Homo sapiens: one gene and its partner. The protein of the gene in region 1 purifies or fractionates together with the protein of each later gene. This does not show direct contact. Each region holds a gene or a part of one and is shown in the gene's direction. Other genes may lie near its edges.

Evidence for each region. The genes of interacting proteins can lie anywhere in the genome.
Region 2: the proteins of COX10 (region 1) and COA8 purify together in Homo sapiens (affinity purification with mass spectrometry; one large-scale study listed by BioGRID and IntAct). This does not show direct contact.

What each region holds. Positions count from the first base shown.
Region 1 is NC_000017.11:14,191,504-14,195,003, forward strand, and holds part of COX10 (protoheme IX farnesyltransferase, mitochondrial), read left to right. Parts: intron 1-485; coding exon 486-718; intron 719-3,500. UniProt on the Homo sapiens protein: Converts protoheme IX and farnesyl diphosphate to heme O.
Region 2 is NC_000014.9:103,576,108-103,580,169, forward strand, and holds part of COA8 (cytochrome c oxidase assembly factor 8), read left to right. Parts: intron 1-4,062. UniProt on the Homo sapiens protein: Required for cytochrome c complex (COX) IV assembly and function Protects COX assembly from oxidation-induced degradation, COX being the terminal component of the mitochondrial respiratory chain.

The sequences.
Region 1 (3,500 bases):
AAGAACAGCTTCCAGAATTCAGGTAGTATTTTCTGCCCAATCTTCCAATATTGTGTTTGAAGTGGTTTGTTCATGACTAAATATAAAATGGAACACTGTGCAGGAGGCATTGTCTCAGTCAGTCTTCAACCCTAGGAGGAAAAGATGATCATTTCTCTTGTAGAGAGGAGTAAGTGAAACCTAGCTGCCCTATAGCCAGGAAGGGACAGAACCTATATGAATCCAGAACACTCTAATCCTGACTCTCTTAACCACTTTACTCTTAGCTAGCAAAATCAAGAAGAGCAGCCAGAGCTCCCACAAACATATTCTTTCTTATTATAAGTTTGTTTCATAAAGAGGATTCCCCATATCCAGGAATCAGCCAGATCAGTACTGCCTCTACTGGATAGGTGGATTATTTGTACTTTGTCAGTGCCGATTTTAGGTAGTGTGATTGAGTTGAGTTGGAGATGATCACTCCAGGTTCTCTGCTCTTTTTCCAGCCCATTGCTAGCTGTGTCCTTTGCCACTTGTTGTGCTGTTCCGGGAGTTGCCATTCTGACCTTGGGGGTGAATCCACTCACAGGAGCCCTGGGGCTCTTCAACATTTTCCTGTATACCTGCTGCTACACACCACTGAAAAGGATCAGCATTGCCAACACATGGGTCGGAGCTGTGGTTGGGGCCATCCCGCCTGTCATGGGCTGGACAGCGGCCACGGGCAGCCTCGATGCTGGTAAGTGTCCCGCGATGTGGAGTCTCATATGAGCACACTCGGTCAAGGAGGCATTTCCTCCCTGAGCTGTAGCACTTGGTTCGATTCCATTCCATCCCACATTAATTCTTTTAGCAAATGTGCTGATGTGGCAGACTGAAATTTTGTGGACGCAGAGTAAAGAGAGACCGTGTCATCCTGGCTGGTGGGTGCACATGACATACACTTTCCCTTATAGGGAATGTCTGGGAGAAAAAAAAGGAAGCAGTGCTGCCTACCTGTGACTACAGGTGGATAAAGAAAGTACCTGAAGCTATGATGAAAATCACAAACGAAGCTAGGACTAACGAATTCATGGGGCGGGGAGAAGGTATCTGGAGCTGGCCTCCAGTCTCCCATCAAAGGGGTTTCGTCTCACGAGCCAGCCTCCTGTGTTCCCCTCTTATGAAAGGGCAGATTATTTTCATTAGTTTCTAATTTATTTTTATATGATTTGCTTAAATCGTTCATACTGTCTATAGTAAAACTATTGAAAGATTCCTACATTTTTTTGGTGGTATGTCACAACTAAATTTGTGGGGTGAAAATAGCTCATTTTTACCATGTGTAAGGGAAGTTTCACAGTCTAATTAGTCAAGTAATTAGTGTTTTTGACCGACACTTAGGAAGGAAGTGGTGAGGTTTCCTGCAATATATGTAAGTACATATTTTTCACATGAGAGATCAAAAGGCAGTTGACCATAAACCGTTACCCTGTAAGCCACATTTCTGAAACTTTTCATAAAAGCTCTTACACTCCAATTTGGCAAGCTTACAAATGCGATTACACCTTTACCATGATTGTCTCTTAGAATGGTTTTAATATCCTGTAAATGTCAGATTTTAATGAATCTACGAATACCATATTCTAAAACGTATGTGCTTGTGTGTTCTGTGATAAACCTAAAACCAGAGCCCCATCCATGTGGGAGGCAGTGTCAGCAAAGCGGTGGTGAGCAAGGAAGCCGGCGGCGCTGCCTGGATGGGGAGCCCGACCCCACCGCTCATGAGCTGTGCATCCTTCGCAGCTGAACTCAGCCTCTTTCTGCCACTGTCTCCTCATCTCCCACATGGGGCTAATAATCTTCTCCCCTCCTGGAGTCATTGTGAGGATGAAACAAATTGTTATTTGTAAGGTGCTGGACCATGGTGAGGGCTCAATTTGGGATCTGTATGCTGTTGTTATCATTCAGGAGTCCTCCTTCATACAGTGGAGGGACTGGCACAGATCAGGAAATGGAAGATTTTGTTTGGTTTGTAAGCTGAGCGATGCAGCCTTGTCCTCTGGCTGTTATTTTGAAGACTGAGGCGCCTGCAGCCTGGTGGGAAAGAGTGCTGGGGTCCTTTGGTGAGGTTTGCAGTGGATGAGGGAAGGGAGGGTTTAAAGCCTGGGCTTGGCATCCCTGGGCTAGATGACATCTGCGTGTTCATCCTGGTTTATAGTTGACCTTCACAGAGCACACCTGCACACCACCAGCCCTCCTGCTCCCGGTCACGTTCCTCTTCCTTAGTTCCACCTGGAGCTCACCTGACTTGACCCCAATTCCCTCTCCCCCTTAACGCAACTGTCCTCTTCCCTCTTATTTCCCTCAAACCTTTATAGTGATTGTGCAGACATTTGAGGTGGAGACCATGAAAGACAGTGTGGGACTTCCTAGGCTGTGCATGGGGAGTATCCCCCTTCCTCAAGGGTGTAGCCCCACTTCAGCACTTGGGTCCCTGCACTGAGCCACCTGCCTGTCTGATGGAGACACCCCCATCCCTGGCAGGGGTGCCTGAACTCTATTCAACTTCCTCAAACCTGGCACCAAGCAACAAGAACCTTCTCTTTCTGGGAAGACCCAGACAGGGCCAGAGTCAGGGCCAAGTATTACAGCCTTAGGGACAGGTAGTACAGGAGACTGGTATGGGCAGTTCAGTCCCAGGCCATGGAGAACTTGGTCACCACTGTTGTGCAGTGTTGTCCTAGGGCCCAGGTTCTTGCTGAGGGCTAGAGGCCCTTGTCACACTTCCGGGCAGTTTCCTCCTGAAGAGAGCCTCAGCATGTGCAGGCTGGAGTTGCCTCCCCGGAGGCTAGAGAAAAAGAGCTTTTCAAAAGTCCTCACTTAAGAGTGCACATTCAGACAAGAGCCCTTATTTGTTTAAGGATAGTCTGGATTTGGCTAAACTGCTAATAGTCATGTTTAAAATAATTTTTTTTCTTTTGAGATGGCGTCTCGCTCTGTCGCCCAGGCTGGAGTGCAGTGGTGCGATCTCGGCTCACTGCAACCTCCGCTTCCTGGGTTCAAGCGATTCTCCTGCTTCAGCCTCCTGCATAGCTGGGACTACAGGCGCCCGCCACCACGCCCAGCTAATTTTTATATTTTTAATAGAGACGGGGTTTCACCATATTGGCCAGGATGGTCTCTATCTCTTGACCTCGTGATCCGCCTGCCTCGGCCTCCCAAAGTGCTGGGATTACAGGCGTGAGCCACCGCGCCTGGCCTAAAATAAATTTTTTAATGTTGATTATAGTCTTTCTATAATACAGATTTAATCATTTGTATACAAACTCATTAATGATGGACAGCTAAGGGCAGCTCATCCCTTGTTTAGGTAGCAGAATGAAAGTACGTATTTGTCTTGGAAAATGAGACCCCTTTTCTACCCCAACAGAACCTGGTATAAAACAGAGCAGTCTGAAAGACATGTATAACCACAAAGAGAAGTTCCCTTGGCAGTTTTTGAGGTTGGCTTCTATTACAGTGTATCCTTTTACTTTAAA
Region 2 (4,062 bases), on another chromosome or scaffold:
CCAGCCTGATCAACATGGTGAAACCCCGTCTCTACTAAAAATACAAAAATTAGCTGGTCGTGGTGGCACTTGCCTGTAATCCCAGCTACTCAGGAGACTGAGGCAGGAGAATCACTTGAACCCAGGAGGCGGAGGTTGCGGTGAGCCGAGATTGCGCCACTGCACTCCAGCCTGGGTGACAGAGCGAGACTCTGTCTCAAAAAAATAAAAAAAGAAAGTCGATTGTTTATGGATTAAAGAGTTAGATACATAGTTCGCAGCTGTAGAGCATCTAATAGGATATAACAGACTCACCATTATCTGGAGGAATGATACCGTCCTGAGCTTGAGGGTGAAGACAGAGATATTCAAGAACATAAAAGCTGAAAACGTCTGTGTTAAGACTCCTTTTGATCCAGGTTTCTGGACAGGAGAGTTTGCTGAGCATATGTGGAGGTGGCTCAGTACCCAGAGGCGGGTGGAGCTGGCCCCAGTCATGGCCTGTGCTCAGACGCTAGGACCAGAGCAATTTCTTCCTCATGTTTAAACTTTTCTCCTAGGCCACTGCCTTACCTTTCTCATGCTATAAACTGGCTTTCTCTGCCTCCTTGTTTATCCCTCCTAAGTTCAAAGAAGCAGTCAGCTGAGGAGGCTGCCTTTCCTCAGGCTGGCTCCAGCCCGGTTGGGAGGTGCCCGGATTAGCTGAGGCAGAGGTGGGGCTTGTGCAGAGAGCCTGGCTGCTGCCATGGAGACGGGAGGAAGCAGGCAAAAGAGCAGGCCTGCTGGCAAAGGATCAGAGGGCTGGGTAGGCGCAGGGATCAGTGTCCCGGAAATGTGAGGAAGGGCAAGTGCTGGCAGCAAAACAACATGGGCAATTTGGACTTCAGGAAAAGCTGCCACAAATACTCAGAAATAACACACATTTATAGACAAATAACGTGACTACAAGAAGAAAAAATTGTTCAAACTCTAAATTTTACAAGGCATATTTGTTTATTTTTTTGAGATGGAGTCTCACTCTGTCACCAGGCTGGAGTGCAGTGGCGTGATCTCGGCTCACTGCAGTCTCCACCTCCGGGTTCAAGCAATTCTCCTGTCTCAGCCTTCCAAGTAGCTGGGATTATAGGCACCCGCCCCCACACCTGGCTAATTTGTGTGTGTGTGTGTGTTTCGTAGACGGAGTTTCACCATGTTGACCAGGCTGGTCTCAAACTCCTGACCTCAAGTGATCTTCTCATCTCAGTCTCCCAAAGTGGTGGGATTACAGGCATGAGCCACCGCGCCCAGCCTACAGTGCATATGCAACAAGAAGTCATCATTTCATGCTTACTCAGTTCATGGGGGAATGTTTTCAGTCTTGAGACTCAGTGCTGGCGGAGTTACATCAAAGGTGGATGGCAGCAGAAAATCCTCAGCCCCTTTTCCAGAAGAATTTAGCTACACATATTTACATATACCCCAGGAAGCAGGCAAATGATGCTCATGAATCATCTCTAAGAATTCATGTGAGAGCCAGGCTTGGTGGCTCATACCTGTAATCCCACCACTTTGTGAGGCTGAGGTGGGTGGATCACTTGAGCCCAGGAGTTTGAGACCAGCCTGGGCAACATGGTAAAACCCTTTGTCTACAAAAAATTTAAAAATAAAAATAATTAAGGCCGGGTGCGGTGGCTCATGCCTGTAATCCCAGCACTTTGGGAGGCTGAGGCAGGCGGATCACCTGAGGTCAGGAGTTTGAGACCAGCCTGACCAACATGAAGAAACTCCATCTCTACTAAAAATACAAAATTAGCCAGTCGTGGTGATGCATGCCTGTAATCCCAGCTACTCAGGAGGCTGAGGCAGAAGAATCGCTTGAACCCCGGAGGCGGAAGTTGCACTGAACCGAGATTGCACCATTGCACTCCAGCCTGGGCAGCAAGAGTGAAACTCCATCTCAAAAAAAAAAAAAAAAAAAAAAAGCCAAGTTTGGCAGTATGTGTCTGTAGTCCCAACTACTCGGGAGGCTGAGGTGGGAGGATCACTTGAGCCCAGGGGGTGGAGGCTGCAGTGAGCCGAGATTGTGTCACTGCACTCCAGCCTGAGTGACAGAGCCAGACTGTCTCCAAAAAAAAAATTCATGTGGGGAAACATGGGAAGAGTTCAGCTGTGTGTTCCTTGCAGCACAATCTTTCATTGCAGAAGAATGGGAAGAATGGAAATGCCCAGTACTAGAAGAACGGATAAGGCTGTGGTGGCCTACGCACTTACTGGCCTTCACCGGAATATTCTGCAGCAGTGCAGAAAAATGAGTGATTGAATTTGAAGTGCAAGCAGCAGAATACTGTGATTTCAGTTCTGCCAGTCTCAAAATTAAATCTCATTTGTAAGGCAGGCAGTATTGTGGGAGAATTCCTCTAATGTATTTCATTCCCAGAGTGTTTATGCAGTGGCAGGAAGAGTACCATCAAGATGGGTTTAGTTTAAGTCAGTCTCCTAAGTATTTATGAAACACCCACTCGGTTTTCAGTAAGTGTGGTGAACTCGGTGTTTTGCCTCTTTCCCTGAACTTAGCGGTAGGTTCGGTATTAAGCTGCAGTGCTGCAGTGTGGATGGTGCCCTGCTTAGCAGATATTACAGTGCTTCTGCTGCTTGTTGAGCCTTGGCCTGGGGGTGTTTGAGCCAAATGCAAGGAGACCTGTCCTGAGGGACGCCCATGTCAATGGAGTCAGGTGGCAGCAGCTGGTACCCCTGCCTTTGGGATACTCCCGTGGTCACCCTAACAGCAGTGACCACAAGCAAGCACTTCTGTGCCAGCCGCGCCCCTCCTGCCACACTGACGGAGTGTAGCTTCATGAGGTGCGCGGTTGCTGTCACACACTAGAGAGGAAGAAACTGAGATGGAGGTAAGTCACAGCTCTGGGGCCACACAGCCAGGTGGGGACAGTCTTGGCCTCTGTCCATCCCAGATGAGGTCTCGCTATGTTGACCAGGCTGGCCTCAAGCAGTCTTCCTGCCTCAACCTCTGAGTACGGACACAGTTTTGAGCGCCCTATATGTGTATTAACAGTAACACATGAGACAGAGTAGGCCCTCTTTATCCGAGGGATACATTCCAAGACCCCCAGTGAATGCCTAAGACTGAGGCTAGTACCAAGCCCTGTATGTACACTAGGTTTTTCCCTACACGGTTGTCCCTCCCCTATGTCCTCAGTTCAACCAACCACAGATTGAAAAATATTGAAAACAATAAACATATAAACAATAAAATATTGAAAATAAAAAATACAATTTTTTCTTTTTAGATGGAGTCTCACTCTGTCACCCAGGCTGGAGTGCAGTGGCACGATCTCGGCTCACTGCAAACTCTGCCTCCTGGTTCAAGCGATTCTCCTGCCTCAGCCTTCTGAGTAGCTGGGACTACAGGTACACACCACCACACCTGACTAATTTTTGTATTTTTAGTAGAGGCAGGGTTTCACCATGTTGGCCAGGCTGGTCTCAAACTCCTGACCTCAGATGATCCACCCACCTCGGCCTCCCAAAGTTCTGGGATTATAGGCATGAGCCACCGCGCCCGGCCAAAAATAGAAAAATTTAGAAGTACAGCATAACGGCCGGGCACGGTGGCTCACGCCTGTAATCCTAGCACTTTGGGAGGCTGAGGCGGGCAGATCACCTGAGGTCAGGAGTTCGAGACCAGCCTGGCCAACAATGTGAAATCCCGTCTATACTAAAGACACAAAACTTAGCTGGACGTGGTGGCGTATGCCTGTAATCCCAGCTACTTGGGAGGCTGAGGCAGGAGAATCATCTGAACCTGGGAGATGGAGGCTGCAGTGAGCCGAGATCATGCCACTGCACTCTAGCCTGGGCAACAAAGCAAGACTCTGTCTCAAAAAAAAAAAAAAAAAAAGTACAGCATGACAACTGTTCATACAGCATTTACATTGTATTAGGTATCATAAGTAATCCAGGGATGACTTAAAGCATATGGGAGGATGCGAGTAGGTTATTTGCAAATATTTGGAGACAAAGCCTTGCTCTGCCACTCAGGCTGGAGTGCAGTGGCGCGATCGTGGCTCCCTGGAGCTTCAACCTCCC